Homo sapiens: one gene and its partners. The protein of the gene in region 1 purifies or fractionates together with the protein of each later gene. This does not show direct contact. Each region holds a gene or a part of one and is shown on either strand. Other genes may lie near its edges.

The links.
Region 2: the proteins of ZNF684 (region 1) and RABL6 purify together in Homo sapiens (affinity purification with mass spectrometry, with the first as the bait; one large-scale study listed by BioGRID). This does not show direct contact.
Region 3: the proteins of ZNF684 (region 1) and CLCC1 purify together in Homo sapiens (affinity purification with mass spectrometry; one large-scale study listed by BioGRID and IntAct). This does not show direct contact.
Region 4: the proteins of ZNF684 (region 1) and MTMR4 purify together in Homo sapiens (affinity purification with mass spectrometry; 2 studies listed by BioGRID and IntAct, with this or other methods). This does not show direct contact.

Annotation. Positions count from the first base shown.
Region 1 is NC_000001.11:40,541,637-40,545,136, forward strand, and holds part of ZNF684 (zinc finger protein 684), read left to right. Parts: coding exon 1-74; intron 75-3,500. UniProt on the Homo sapiens protein: May be involved in transcriptional regulation.
Region 2 is NC_000009.12:136,824,948-136,828,447, forward strand, and holds part of RABL6 (rab-like protein 6), read left to right. Parts: intron 1-831; coding exon 832-879; intron 880-3,500. UniProt on the Homo sapiens protein: May enhance cellular proliferation. May reduce growth inhibitory activity of CDKN2A.
Region 3 is NC_000001.11:108,942,985-108,946,484, reverse strand, and holds part of CLCC1 (chloride channel CLIC-like protein 1 isoform 1 precursor), read left to right. Parts: intron 1-2,427; coding exon 2,428-2,649; intron 2,650-2,869; coding exon 2,870-3,010; intron 3,011-3,500. UniProt on the Homo sapiens protein: Anion-selective channel with Ca(2+)-dependent and voltage-independent gating. Permeable to small monovalent anions with selectivity for bromide > chloride > nitrate > fluoride.
Region 4 is NC_000017.11:58,504,639-58,508,138, reverse strand, and holds part of MTMR4 (phosphatidylinositol-3,5-bisphosphate 3-phosphatase MTMR4), read left to right. Parts: intron 1-819; coding exon 820-1,016; intron 1,017-1,267; coding exon 1,268-1,396; intron 1,397-2,555; coding exon 2,556-2,667; intron 2,668-3,164; coding exon 3,165-3,360; intron 3,361-3,500. UniProt on the Homo sapiens protein: Lipid phosphatase that specifically dephosphorylates the D-3 position of phosphatidylinositol 3-phosphate and phosphatidylinositol 3,5-bisphosphate, generating phosphatidylinositol and phosphatidylinositol 5-phosphate.

The DNA.
Region 1 (3,500 bases):
AGTGATCCTCAAGGTAGAGCAAGGACAAGAGCCATGGATGGTGGAGGGAGCGAATCCACACGAGAGCTCTCCAGGTGAGTGAGAGAAATTCAGATGGGGCTGTGTGGAGTTGAGATCCCCATTGGTCAGTGAGGGACAGGAAGTTCTGAAATACTCTTAGAAGCACCTCTTAAAAGCCACACACCTTTAACATAACATCATCAGCCAGCTCCCCAAAAGCTGCCTTCACCCTCATTCTCCCCACACGTGCCCTTTCTCTTTGCTCAGCTGTTGTATGGAGGGTTGTCCCTCTCCTGTCTCCTCAGGCTTCTCACACTGCCTGTTTCATCTAGGTCCTTGCTTTGTTTATGTTCTCTTAATTCCTAAAACCCTCATTATTCTTCCCTTCTCAACATCGATCTTTTTCTATATACGTAGTCCTTATAATGAAGTTAAATTATCTGAATTTGAGGCGTTACTCTACCAATCACTGTCTAACCTTAAGCAGATTATTTTGTAGCATAATTTTCTTTATTTATAAAATAGGAACATTAATCCTTACCTCAGGTTTCCTGTAAAGATTATATGAGGTAATACATGCAAAACACTTCAAATAGTTGGCAGATAGTAAATGTTCAGTATATGCTAATTATTTTTTTCAAAACTTTTAGGTACATCATGTTCTATTTTATTTTCCTTTTGTTTTTTCTTTAACTTATTCCTTTTCTTGCATCATAAATCCCATCTTGCATCTTTCTTCTCCCTGATAATTTGGGATATGTCTTGTAGCGCAACTTTCTGTTTCACTTGGTAATATTGATAACTTTTTGAAATTCCCCTCCAGCTTTTTGTTGTCTTACTAATCTGTTCTCACCCTTTCTTACTGCTTATTCACCTTTTGCTCAGGCCTTCTCTTCCATCTTCTTGACTTCTCTCTACAATAACTCCCTCAGAAGCCTCATCACTCTGAAAACTAAAGTTACTTGTTTTATGCCAACTCTAGCATCTTTGCCTCACCAACTTTTCATTCCCATAATTTTACTCTACCTGGCCTTCATGGTAACTAATTTTTTTATTTCTTCAATTGTCACCCTTAGCTTTATATCACAATAAATAATAATGAATGGCCCCCTGCTTTGCAGTCTCAAAACCACTGCATTAAGCAATTTGATTTTTTTCCTGTCAATAGTTTCTCCTTAAATATGATACTAACTTATGGCCTATGATTTCAGCGATTAGTTTATTCAAGACTGATTCAAAATTAAATTTTCCCTTTCTGCAGAGTTCACAAAAGAACTCTTTCAAATGATTGACATATCTTTCAAATGATTGACACCAATTAAATATATTTCAGATTCCCTGGGACCCCAACTTCTGTTGACATAAACCAAATGACTTTTTTTTTAGAGACAGGGTCTTACTCCATCACCCAGGCTGGAGTGCAGTGATGCCATCATAGCTCACTGCAGCCTTGAACTCCTGGCCTCAAGCAAGTCTCCTGCCTCAGCTTCCCAAGCAGCTGGGACCACAGGCACATGCCACAGTCCTCAGCTGAATTTTAATTACTGATATTGTATCTAGACTGTTTATGTTACTGTTTTACAAATTACATTCTATTTTCTAGTTTACATTAGATATTTCTACAAGATTTATCCAAATTATTCTATTTCTGTTGTTGCTCTCCTGAAAAATGTAAATTATCCCCTTTATAACCTGTGTTGTGATATTTAAATGGCTTTTAATGTCCTCTATAACATGGTCCCATTTTACTTACCCAGAATTATCCATCTTTTTTTTATTCCATGGAAATTGGCCTTTTTAATGTCCACTATATACAGTTTTCTTTTTTTTTTTTTTTCGAGACAGAGTCTTGCTCTGTTGCCCAGGCTGGAGTGCAGTTGCGAGATCTGGGCTCACTGCAAGCTCCGCCTCCCGGGTTCACGCCATTCTCCTGCCTCAGCCTCCCGAGTAGCTGGGACTACAGGTGCCCACCACCACACCCAGCTAATTTTTGGTACTTTTAGTAGAGACGGGGTTTCACCACGTTAGCCAGGATGGTCTCGGTCTCCTGACCTCATGATCCTCCCGCCTTGGCCTCCCAAAGTGCTGGGATTACAGGCGTGAGCCACCTCGCCCAGCTTATATACCGTTTTCTTCTCTGCATCAATCCTTCTGATTCTGGTCTGTTCCTAAAACCAGCATTTTCTTAAGTCTGATTTCAGCTTTTCCTCTTTCATTGTAACTCCAGTCTAAATTAATCTTCACTTTCTTTGAACTCCCAAGCCAATTCTATTATGACTCTGTCATGAAAAATTTACATATACTGTCTTGGATATATTTTTTTAATGCATGTGGCTTTTAAGGCCTGTTTTCTTTTTCTTTTTTTTTTTATGATAGTGCCTGAAGAGAATGACCTGTTTTATGCAGAGCACATCATGGTATCCAATGAATATTTTATTAATTTATTGTTATAGAGCCAGACATTGTGGGGGATGTTTCTTTTTTTATTTTTCTTTTTTTTCAGTATCCCTGTCATAGCAATGTGGGAGATGTTTCTTATTCTTCCATTCAACAAGGCTTTTAAAAATGTTACCTGAAAAGGTTCAAAGGAAGCAAAAATCTCATTACCATTTTCTAACTTATGAAAGGTAGTTGGAACAGCAAAACATGTTCATATTAAAATATTTTCCCTGGTGGTTTAGTGGTTAGGAAAACAATATATAAATAAAAAGTAAAAGTTTTGTTTTCTTGTTGTTGTTTGTTTGTCTTTTTTTGAGACAGAGTCTCGCTCTGTCGCCAGGCTGGAGTGCAGTGGCGCAATCTCAGCTCGGGTTCAAGTGATTCTCCTACCTCAGCCTCCCGAAGAGCTGGAACTACAGGCGCCCGCCACCATGCCTGGCTAATTTTTGTATTTTTAGTAGAGACACGGTTTCACCATGTTGGCCAGGATGGTCTTGATCTCTTGACCTTGTGAGCCACCCGCCTTGGCCTCCCAAAGTGCTGGGATTACAGGTGTGAGCCACCGTGCCTGGCCCAAAAATAAAGTATTTTAAAATTCAACAAACGAGTATGAAACATTTCTTCAATGCACATTAACATTGCAGTTTTGTTCTAATTAACTGTCAAAATGACAGACAGCAGCAGTGACTATCTTAGAAATTCATAGAAAATGGAGCTTAAAGTTTAAAGTATGCAAAATTTGGAGAAGTCTTTTTTTTGAGGTCATGGAACAGTGGTTCCTCCCTAAAGAGTATCTAAGTTCTAGATAGGACGAGAGGAGATAAGGGGGGGTGCAAATGAAGGTGGACAACGAACATGAGCAAAAGATTGAATTTAGGAATCTAGAATCCATGGAGTAGAAGGTATTTGTTGAGGACTAGTGAAATGCATGCTTCCCATGAGTGAATTCATATCTTGCATAATTTTGTTTGCCAGGCTGATTATGTTGAATTTTTCAGTGGATTATTGTTGGTAGAGGTAATGCAAGATGCTGCTTCCCATCGGTTGAAATAGAGCGGAAA
Region 2 (3,500 bases), on another chromosome or scaffold:
GGGGCAGATGCCTGGCTGTGTGAGGGCCCCGGGCGTGCCTCTCCCCTCTGGTTCTCCCTTCCCCTTGGAATCCTTGGGTGGGCGGGAGGCTCCATCCATCAGCTCCCCCAGTCCCCAGCACGCCCCACAACAGAGCACAGTCATGGGAGCTCAGGAGGAGTGGTTGGCACCAGCAGGCCCAGCTGCGATGGTGCGGTGTGAGGCAGGCCTGGGGCCTCTCAGGTGGCTCCGAAGGGAGGGTCCGGCCTCCGCCCTCAGTGATTACTTAGATTCTGCTCCCTCAAAGTGAACTAGAGGCCAGTCACTGGATGAAGAAACAGGGTCAGAAGGTGACACAGGCGGGCCCATTCATTCGCACCTGTCAGCAGAAGCGTACTCCATGGGCAAAAACACAGACATCGACCCAGCCAGGAGGGTCCCCTTCCAGTATGCTGAGGCCAGGAGGGGCCGTGCCCAGGATCGGGGCCCGGGAGGGAGGGGCCGTGCCCAGGATCGGGGCCGGGGAGGGAGGGGCCGTGCCCAGGATCGGGGCCCTGGAGGGAGGGGCCGTGCCCAGGATCGGGGCCCGGGAGGGAGGGGCCGTGCCCAGGATTGGGGCTGCGGAGGGAGATACCGTGCATTCAGTTTGTCACTGAAGCTGTGTCTGAGCGAAGGCCTGAAGGAGCCGCCATGTGGTCGTCTGGGGAGGACACATCCCCTGCTTCTGGACACTCGGAAGTCCTGGTGGGAGCCGGTGGCTGCGGGGCACAGACAACCACACCAGCTGGACCGCTTTGTGCCACCTTGGGAACTTCATGTTGGGCACTAATTTTAGGATTCTCCCTGTTTCAGCCACGGATGACATCGTGAAGGTTGAAGTCTGGGATGTAGTAGACAAAGGTGAGGCGTCTCTGTTCTGTGTCTGCTTCTCTCTGGGACTGTGTGCTCTGCGCAGAGAGGCTTCCTTTCTTTCCCCCGGCGCCCATGCATCACCCACCATCCTCGTGGACGGTGCCCAGGGTCTTGCTGCTCTGCTCCCCTCCACATCCAGTGGCGACCCCGCAGCGTGGCGCAGCCCCTCCTGTGGCACTGCATGCTTTGCTGCTTTAGCATACTCCCCGTCTCTGAGTGACCGCGTGCACGGTGGCGGCAGGTGCAGCCGGGGGGTGTGCTTTGAGCCCCAAGGCCCAGGGTGCTATTTTGGGAGCCCTCCTCCTGCACTGCCTGGCGGAGTAGCCCAGCACCAGGCGGCCCCCTGCCCATAGCTGAGGACCCAGCTCCTGCGCTCCTGTCCCTGCCAGGGATCCCCAGCCACACAGACCTGCACTCTGGGGACCGTGGGAGGGCAGCACCAGCCCCCGGGGTGTCCTCGACATCGTTGGTCTCCTCCTCAGCCACAAGGTCATGAGTTCCTCTAAGTCCTCAGGGTGGAGCTCATGGCCCTCCCCGGGGCCCATGGTCCGTGTGCATGTGTGGTGTGTGCAGGGCTGGCCACGTGCACGCCCCGGCCTCACAGGCCTGGCTGTGGCCTCGTTACGAGGCTCTGCTGGAAAGGCGGCCGCCGCCTCTGTGTGATGGTGTCTGTTCGGATGGCGCATGCTCCCCTCCCTCCACCTGTGCTTTGTTGGGGTGGGTTTGGCCATGGGGGGTTAGAGGCAGGTGCTCATGCAGTTCCCGCAGGGGTGCTGGGCCCCTGCGGCTCCCACCACATTGCGCTGGACTCTTGTGGCCCGTGCTGACCTGGTGTTCCAGATGCTGTCTCTGCAGAGCTCTGCGTGGTCTCTGGTGTTAGAGAGGTGGCCACCCACCGCCCTATCATTGTCCTCATCCCCACTGTGAGGAGAAGCTATCAGATCTGCCTGTGGCCCCCAGGTGGCTCAGGAAGGGCCGTCCTGACCCCCATCCTGGCCCCTTTCGGAGCTGCAGAGATTTCCTGTGCCTCCAGCTCTGGCTTCCTGGGTCTGTCCTTGGCGTGGAGCGGGCACAGGCTTCCCGTAGACACGGTTGCCCAGAGTGGGGTTCATAACTGGGCACTGTAAAGGGTGTGGTCTCCACGGCTTAGGATGGGCCCCCCCTTCCTGGTGGCCTGCTGTGCCCGGGGCTGGTGTGGAGGCCTGTGGGTGCAGAGGCCGCCTGGCCCTGGGCTTCCTCTGGGGTTACATGTGTACCCTTGCACCCACCTGTTAGCACCCACCGGGAGAGTCTCACTCAGCCTAAACCAGGGCCCCTCAGGAGGAAAAGGTCCCCAGCTTCATGATGGGGCCCAGTGTGCCTTCCATCCCCGCCCTGACTCAGTGCCCACTGTGCGAGGTGTGAGCACTGTCCACAGCAGCCAGGGCGGCCGGTGGGGAGTGCATTGGAGGGGGTTGAGGTCTCTTGGGCACCTGGTGAGTTCTCAAGGGTGAGAGGAAGCCGAGGCCATCAGGCTTAGCTGACGCTGCATGGGGCAGGCTGCCAAGAGGGAGGCTGAATGGAGCAGCCTCAGGTGAGCCGACAATCCTCACCTCCGCCTGGTCAGCCAGGACCCGGCTCCCCTCCAGTCCCGCCTGCTTTCCCCAAAGCAGATCCAGCCAGTCTCAATGGCTCGCCCGGGGGGTGCTGGTTAGGCTGTGAGCATCCTTCCTGGGTGCAGGCCCCCGACAGCCAGCAGTGCTGTGCTGTGTGTGTGTTGGGGACTCTGCTGAGCCCTTTGTGGCCAGACTGGGGAGGCTCCTCCGGGCTGGCTCTGTCCCCTGTACCTTGTGAGGGAGGGGCTGACCCCCTGACTGGGTTACATCGTGGTGAGCAGTTCAGAAACAAGCTGTGGAATGAAGTGGACGTGGCGTTTTAAACACATGAGCCCCATCTGTTCTTAGGGGTTTTGTTTGTTGTCCCAGTCCGTGACTCCAAGACTGGGACCCCCAGAGTTCCCAGGATGGTCTGGAGCCTTTATCCTCAGGTCAGCATTGTGGAGTTAAAGGGAGGGGACCACGGCCCCTCATTCTCAGGAGAGCCATGGTGACCTTGATGGCGGAGGCTCAGGGGGACCTGGACCGTGGACACCACACAGCTGCCCTCCTCCCTCCCGAGGCCATTTCAGGGCTGGAATCCCTGCCCCCCTCTCCTTTCCTCCCGGGCTGGTTGTTGCCTTGAGAGTCCGTGCGCTCATCTCCCCACTTTTACCCCAGGGGGAGGCCCCTCACCTTCCCACCATATCCCTTGTACTTCCTCCCACCCTGGACTTGGGGGAGCTGGGGGGAGGGGGCCCTTCCTTCAGCAGCAAACCCTCCTGGTGTAGGGCTGTAGGCCATCCCACCGCAGCCTGTCCAGGAGCTGCTGAGCCTGTCAGCCCCAACTAGCACCTCCTGTCCAGGCCCGGCCCAGCCCTGCCTCCAGAGCCTACAGAGGGGCCTCGCCCAGGTCCTGCTGCTCCAGAGCTTGTGGGTGCCCACGCTGCAGGCTGTTTGGGGTGGTGGAGTAGAGCACCCGCTGGAGCTGGGGGCTGAGTGGCCATGGGGGGACCATGCTCCTCCTATGGCCCA
Region 3 (3,500 bases), about 68 Mb from region 1:
CCACCTTATTCTGGAAATGTAGAAGCAGATGCGTTCTCATACGTACACTCTGTAATTTGAGCCTTACAGCTACGTACAGGGTGGAACAGAACCTAGATAAGGAAACAGATGGAACCAAAAATACTTAAGATGGAAATGCTGGAAAATATTTAGTTTCTGATTTTTTTTTTTTTTTGAGACAGAGTCTTGCTCTGTCACCCAGGCTGGAGTGCAGTGGCGCAATCTCCGCTCACTGCAAGCTCCGCCTCCCAGGTTTACACCATTCTCCTGCCTCAGCCTCCTGAGTAGCTGGGACTACAGGCACCCGCCACCATGCCCGGCTAATTTTTTGTATTTTCAGTAGAGACAGGGTTTCACCGTGTTAGCCAGGATGGTCTTGATCTCCTGACCTCGTGATCCGCCTGCCTCATGCCTCCCAAAGTGCTGGGATTATAGGCATGAGCCACCGCGCCCGGCCACGTCTGGCTAATATTTTTGTGTTTTCAGTAGAGACAGGATTTCACCATGTTAGCCAGGCTGGTCTCAAACTCCTGACCTCAAGTGATCTGACCGCCTCGGCCTCCCAAAGTGCTGGGATTACAGGTGTGAGCCACCATGTCCCACCTTGTATTTACTGTTTATAAAAGAAAAAGGAATTTTATTTGTATCAACTGGCTAATTAATGCAAAATTTGTTTAGTGATTTTGCTAAGCTGAACTCACACTAATAAAGGTAGTTATAAATATGTAATTTATGGAAACCCATTATTTTGTTGCTCTTTGAGATCCTTCTTGTTTTTCTTGTTTGCACTAATACAGATTTTAGGCTATCTGAAAACTGTCAGGAAATGAAAAGTCATGCAGTGAATCATAAAATGAAGATGCACAGTTGATCCTCATTCTTCACAGATTCCGTATTTATGAATTGACCTCATTAAGTCTGTGTAACCCCAAAGTCAATAATCGAGGTGTTCTGTGGTTACTCTGGGACACAGTGAAGAGTGGTAAAAAATTTGGGTTGCCTGTTGCAGGCATTCCCAGCTGAGATGGAACAAGGCAATCAAAACTGTTTTCTTGTTTCAGCTCTCGTACTGCAAACAAGTGTCTTTTTTTGTGGTCTATTTAGTGGTATATTTTTTCGTGCTTTTTTGAGGGGAGAGGGGTGATTTTTTTTATTTTTATTTTGAGACCAATCATTAAACAGCATCATTTCGTTGTTTAAAACGGCCCTCTGATGTAGTGCTGAGCTGAGGTCTAGTGTTTCTAAGTGCAAGAAGGCCACGATGTACTTACAGAGAAAAGGAAAAGGTGTGTATTAGATAGGCTTCAGTCAAGCGTAAGGTATAGGACAGTTGTCCATGTGTTCAGTGTTAGTGAATGAACAATATGTATTTTAAATAAGGTGTCCTTAAACAGGAATGTACAGAAACACACATAAAACAAGGTTATATATTGATCAATTGATAAAAATGTTATGACAGGTTTGCACGAACCAAACCCTGTATTTATTATAGGAGTAATGGTTCAGTACTTGCTAATTGGTGTTTGAGGTGACTTTATAGAAGATAACTACTGTGAGGCCGGGTGCAGTGGCTCACGCCTGTAATCCCAGCACTTTGGGAGGCCATGGCGGGCGGATCATGAGGTCAGGAGATCGAGACCATCCTGGCTAATGCGGTGAAACCCCGTCTCTACTAAAAATAGAAAAAATTAGCCAGGCGTAGTGGCGGGCACCTGTAGTCCCAGCTACATGGGAGGCTGAGGCAGGAGAATGGCGTGAACCCAGGAGGTGGAGCTTGCAGTGAGCAGAGATTGCGTCACTGCACTCCAGCCTGGGCGACAGAGTGAGACTCCATCTAAAAAAAAAAAAAGACGATAACTACTGCGAATAGCAAGAATCAACTGTATTTTAGTGAAATTTACAGTATCTTTTTTACATAGAGTTCTAGAATTTTTAAATGTTTTTCATGTATATTATCTTTGGTTTTCATGTTGGCCTGTGAAGACAGGTGGATATTATTATTATTTTTTTTTTTTAGAGACAGGGTCTTACTCTGTCTCCCATGCTGGAGTGCAGTGGTATGCTCATAGCTTACTGCAGCCTCGAATCCGGGGCACAGACAATTCTTCTGCCTCAGCCTGCTGAGTAGGCAGGAGCCAGGTGCACACCACTGCACACAGCTAATGGTTAGAATTTTTTGTAGAGATGGGGTCTCGCTTTGTTGCCCAGGCTGGTCTTGAAGTCCTGGCTTCAAGCTATCCTCCCACCTTGGCCTGTCAAAGCACTAGGATTATAGGTGTGAGCTACCTTGCCCAGGCTATTATTCTTATACATATGAAATACTGCAAACTAATATTTAGTTCCAAATTGGCTTTTGTCTTAAAATGGTTCACCAAGTAGTAATAAAATTCTCTTTCTATTGTTTGTTTTTTGGTAAATTTAATTTAGCCTGATGAAAACAAAGGCGATATGCATTATGATGCTGAGATTATCCTTAAAAGAGAAACTTTGTTAGAAATACAGAAGTTTCTCAATGGAGAAGACTGGAAACCAGGTGCCTTGGATGATGCACTAAGTGATATTTTAATTAATTTTAAGTTTCATGATTTTGAAACATGGAAGTGGCGATTCGAAGATTCCTTTGGAGTGGATCCATATAATGTGTTAATGGTAAGATGGGATGAGGGCAAGGGCAACGTCATTAAGTTTCCTTTTTAAAATACTTTCCAAACTCCACCATAATTACGTTAAGAACCTGTACTAGGTCACTTATACCGTATTGATGAACAAGCCACAAAATTGTAGAAATGATTTTGTGCTTTTGAGTCCAGTTCTTTTTAGCTGTCTTAAGTGTTTTTGGTGGCTGATTTCTGCTTCTCTCTGTTTTAAGGTACTTCTTTGTCTGCTCTGCATCGTGGTTTTAGTGGCTACTGAGCTGTGGACATATGTACGTTGGTACACTCAGTTGAGACGTGTTTTAATCATCAGCTTTCTGTTCAGTTTGGGATGGAATTGGATGTATTTATATAAGGTATTATATGGATGGAGGGTTTTACAATTTTAACACATTTATTCACAATGAAAGAAGACTCTAATCCATTGAGAGCAATCTTGCCTTGGATGTGGGTTGGAGGCAGTGATTAGAGGTGGCCCACGCTGGAGAGGAATTAAATGGACACTTCTTAGCTGACAGTTTTTTGATTCCTTGACCAGTTAGTGGGTAAAAAAGTTCAGTCCTAATTTTCATAACCCAGTTAATGTTAACATTTGGGCATCTAAGTCAGAATAAAGCCAGGTGGGTTGGGTGTGGTGGCTCATGCCTGTAATCCCAGCATTTTGGGAGGCTGAGGTGGGCAGATCACTTGGTCAGGAGGTCAAGACTAGCCTGGCCAACATGGTGAAACCCTGTCTCTACTAAAAATACAAAAATTAGCTGGGCCTGGTGACGTGCACCTGTAGTCCCAGCTACTCAGCAGGCTGAGGCAGGAGAATTGCTTGAACCTGAGAGGTTGCAGTGAGCC
Region 4 (3,500 bases), on another chromosome or scaffold:
TAGGGAGGCCATTTCTTATGCAACAAGGAAAGAGTCAAAATTGGAGATTTTGGGTAACCTGGTTGACTGAGAATTGACACTCTATGGGGAAGTATGAAATAACTTTAAAACAAAAACTATCTTAGTTTTTTCTCCTAAGAATAAGGCTATTAGGGAGTTTATTCATTCCCCCCCTTTTTTTAGAGTGTGTGTGTGTGTGTGTGTGTGTGTGTGTGTGTGTATAAAATAGTACATTATTTTATACACACATTAGTACAGGGGTTGGCAAACTGGCCTGCAGACAAAATCTGGCTTATAGCCTATTATATAAAACGGCTTGTAAGCTGTGAGTGGTTTTTACATTTTTAAAGGGCTATTTTTAAAAAAAGCAAAGAAGAATACATGACAGAAACTGGTTGTGACCCACAAGGCCAAAAATTGTTGTCTGGTTTTTTACTGAAAATGTTTGCTGATCCCTGCACTAGAATATTGTAGCTAAAATAGAGTGAGACAGGAAGTAACCCTGAAGTTTGGAATTGTTCCTATTCTTGGCTCAGCCAGGCCTTGTTCTCCTGCTGGGTGTCTGTACCTGGAGCAGTTGCTGTGCAGATTTGATGAGTCAAGGTCACCTTGGACATACAGAGCCCATTTGAGAAAGTATGTGTGATGGTGCTTTGTAAACGGTGAAGCCTGCTAGTGACGTTGGGGCTTTTGGTTGCTGTTATGGCCTGGATGAGTTGGTAGCCCCTGCTGGCTCTAGAGACTTTGGTCTAACCCCCTGAGGTAGGCCTCTGGAGGCTTCGAATGCCAAGGGCATTACGGTTTCTTCTGTTTTGTCAGACACTTGCGCAATGGGGCTGCCATCGCCCGCTGCAGCCAGCCAGAGATCAGCTGGTGGGGCTGGCGCAATGCTGATGATGAGTACCTGGTCACGTCCATTGCTAAAGCCTGTGCCCTGGACCCGGGGACAAGGGCCACTGGGGGCTCCCTCAGCACCGGGAATAATGATACCAGCGAGGCGTGTGATGCTGACTTTGGTAAGGTGTGGATGATGCTAACCCCCCAGGGAGCAGGCCCCCTCCTTGGCTTCATTGGCTCCCAGGGAGTCCCCAGTGAGAGTCTGGGAAGATGACAACACACGGGGTGCTGGGGTCCCTGCCTTGTCAGAAGCTGTGGGGTATGAGGGGTCTCTAGTTGCATGTTCTGCCTTCTGAGAGGGAGTGCCAGAGGGCCAGCAAGAGGTTGGGTGGCTGGCTGACTCAGGGACTCCTTCCTGCTGTGTGTTTAGATTCTTCTCTGACTGCGTGCTCTGGAGTGGAGAGCACAGCAGCTCCTCAAAAGCTGCTGATCCTGGATGCGCGATCCTACACGGCAGCAGTGGCCAACCGGGCCAAGGGTGGAGGCTGTGAATGTGAAGGTATTGCTGTTATCCCAGTGTCTGCAGCCAGCCTGTGCTCTGGGTGGCTTTGGTGAGGAGGGGGTTGGGGGCCATTTGTATAGTGGAAAGAGCCCAAACAAACCTGGCTTGTAATCACAACTTTGCTACCTACTAGCTATGGCTATGACTATGCTGAAGTTGCTTAATCTGTCCAAGCTTTATTTTCTCTTCTATAAGAAGGGGATGTTACACACTTTGCAAAATTGTTGGGATGATTAGAAGTTGCATATGTAGGCTGGGCCCAGTGGCTCATGCCTGTAATCCCAGTACTTTGGGAGGCAGAGGCAGGCGGATGGCTTGAGCTCAGGAGTTTGAGACCAGCCTGGGCAACATGGTGAAACCCTGCCTCTATCAAAAATACAAACCATTAGCTGGGCATGATGGTGCATGCCTGTGGCCCCATCCCAGCCACTTGGGAGGCTGAGGCATGAGAATCGCTTGCATCTGGGACGCAGAGGTTGCAGTGAGCTGATATCATGCCACTGCACCTCTAGCCTGGGTGACCATGAGACCCTGTCTTAAAAAAGAAAAAGAAGTTGTATATATAAAATTATTGCCACAGAGCAGCTACTATTTATTGAGAATTGATTATATATTGTCTTTCTAAGTACTGCTATCATTTGTCATTACTGTTACTATTATTAATATATGGCACCTGAGTCTCCAGAGATACAAGTGTGATTCAGATTTCAAGACTGTATTTAGTTCCTATCCTGGAGTGCTCTGCCCTGCCAGGAAAGCTTTGTCCACCAGGACCACTCTTGTCCTGGATGCCTGTTTCCAGGACGTGCTTTTTTTGTTTGTTTGTTTGTTTTGAGACGGAGTCTCGCTCTGTCGCCCAGGCTGGAGTGCAATGTGCCATCTCAGCTCACTGCAACCTCCATCTCCCAGGTTCAAGCAATTCTCCTGCCTCAGTCTCCCGAGTAGCTGGGATTACAAGTGCCTACCACTATGGCCAGCTAATTTTTATATTTTTAGTAGAGATGGGGTTTCACTGTGTTAGTCAGGCTGTTCTTGAACTCCTGACCTCAGGTGATCCAACCGCTTCAGCCTCCCAAAGTGCTGGGATTACAGGTGTGAGCCACCGCGCCCGGCCTAGGACGTGCTTTTATGTCCCACTCTCCTGTCATGTCTACAGAGTACTATCCCAACTGTGAGGTCGTGTTCATGGGAATGGCCAACATCCATGCCATCCGGAACAGCTTTCAGTACCTCCGGGCTGTGTGTAGCCAGATGCCGGATCCTAGCAAGTAGGTGTTCCCTACTTGGATTCCTTCCAGTCTCATTCCTTACCCAGTACCTCTTATTCTTGGAAGATTAGATGGGGAGATGAGAAGTTTGGAGAGCAGGAGACCTGAGGGCCTGGGTGGAGTTGGGTGCCGTGGGCTAGTTCCAAGAACCCTTCCACTTCTCAGCCAACACTTTGGCGTGGTCACAGGACATGGATTCCTTTCGTTTGGATCAGTTGTTCTACTCAAAGAACACAGAGAACTGGGGAGAGGAAATGGCTGAGTGTGCATGTGATGCTTCTCAGTTCCTCTTTTGAGCTTCAGATGCTTTTATCTGCTGTAGGTCCTGTCTTCCCTACCTTCCTGCTAGATACCTCTTGTCCAAAAGGCCCTGGGTTGTACCTCTTGGTTTCAGTTCTCAATGGGGACTTTGTTGGGTGGGGCTGGCTGTGGATGGTGGAGAGACTGCTGTGGCCTCAGCACCCTTTGTGACCGACTTGATGTCTGCTTTTGTGTAGCTGGTTGTCGGCACTGGAGAGTACCAAATGGCTGCAGCACTTGTCGGTGATGCTAAAAGCAGCTGTGCTGGTGGCTAATACAGTAGACCGGGAAGGCCGGCCTGTGCTGGTACACTGCTCAGATGGCTGGGACCGCACACCGCAGATCGTAGCCCTGGCCAAAATATTACTGGACCCATATTACAGGACGTTGGAGGTATTGAGAGGAATTCGGTGGGAAAACCAGAAGGAATGTGGCAGGAGGGAAGGTGTTGAGCCCTCTGGATCTGTCCTGGGGATCTTTCAGTAGAGGACATTGGTGGCTCTTTTTTTCTTTTTTTTTCCAACTCCCAAAGG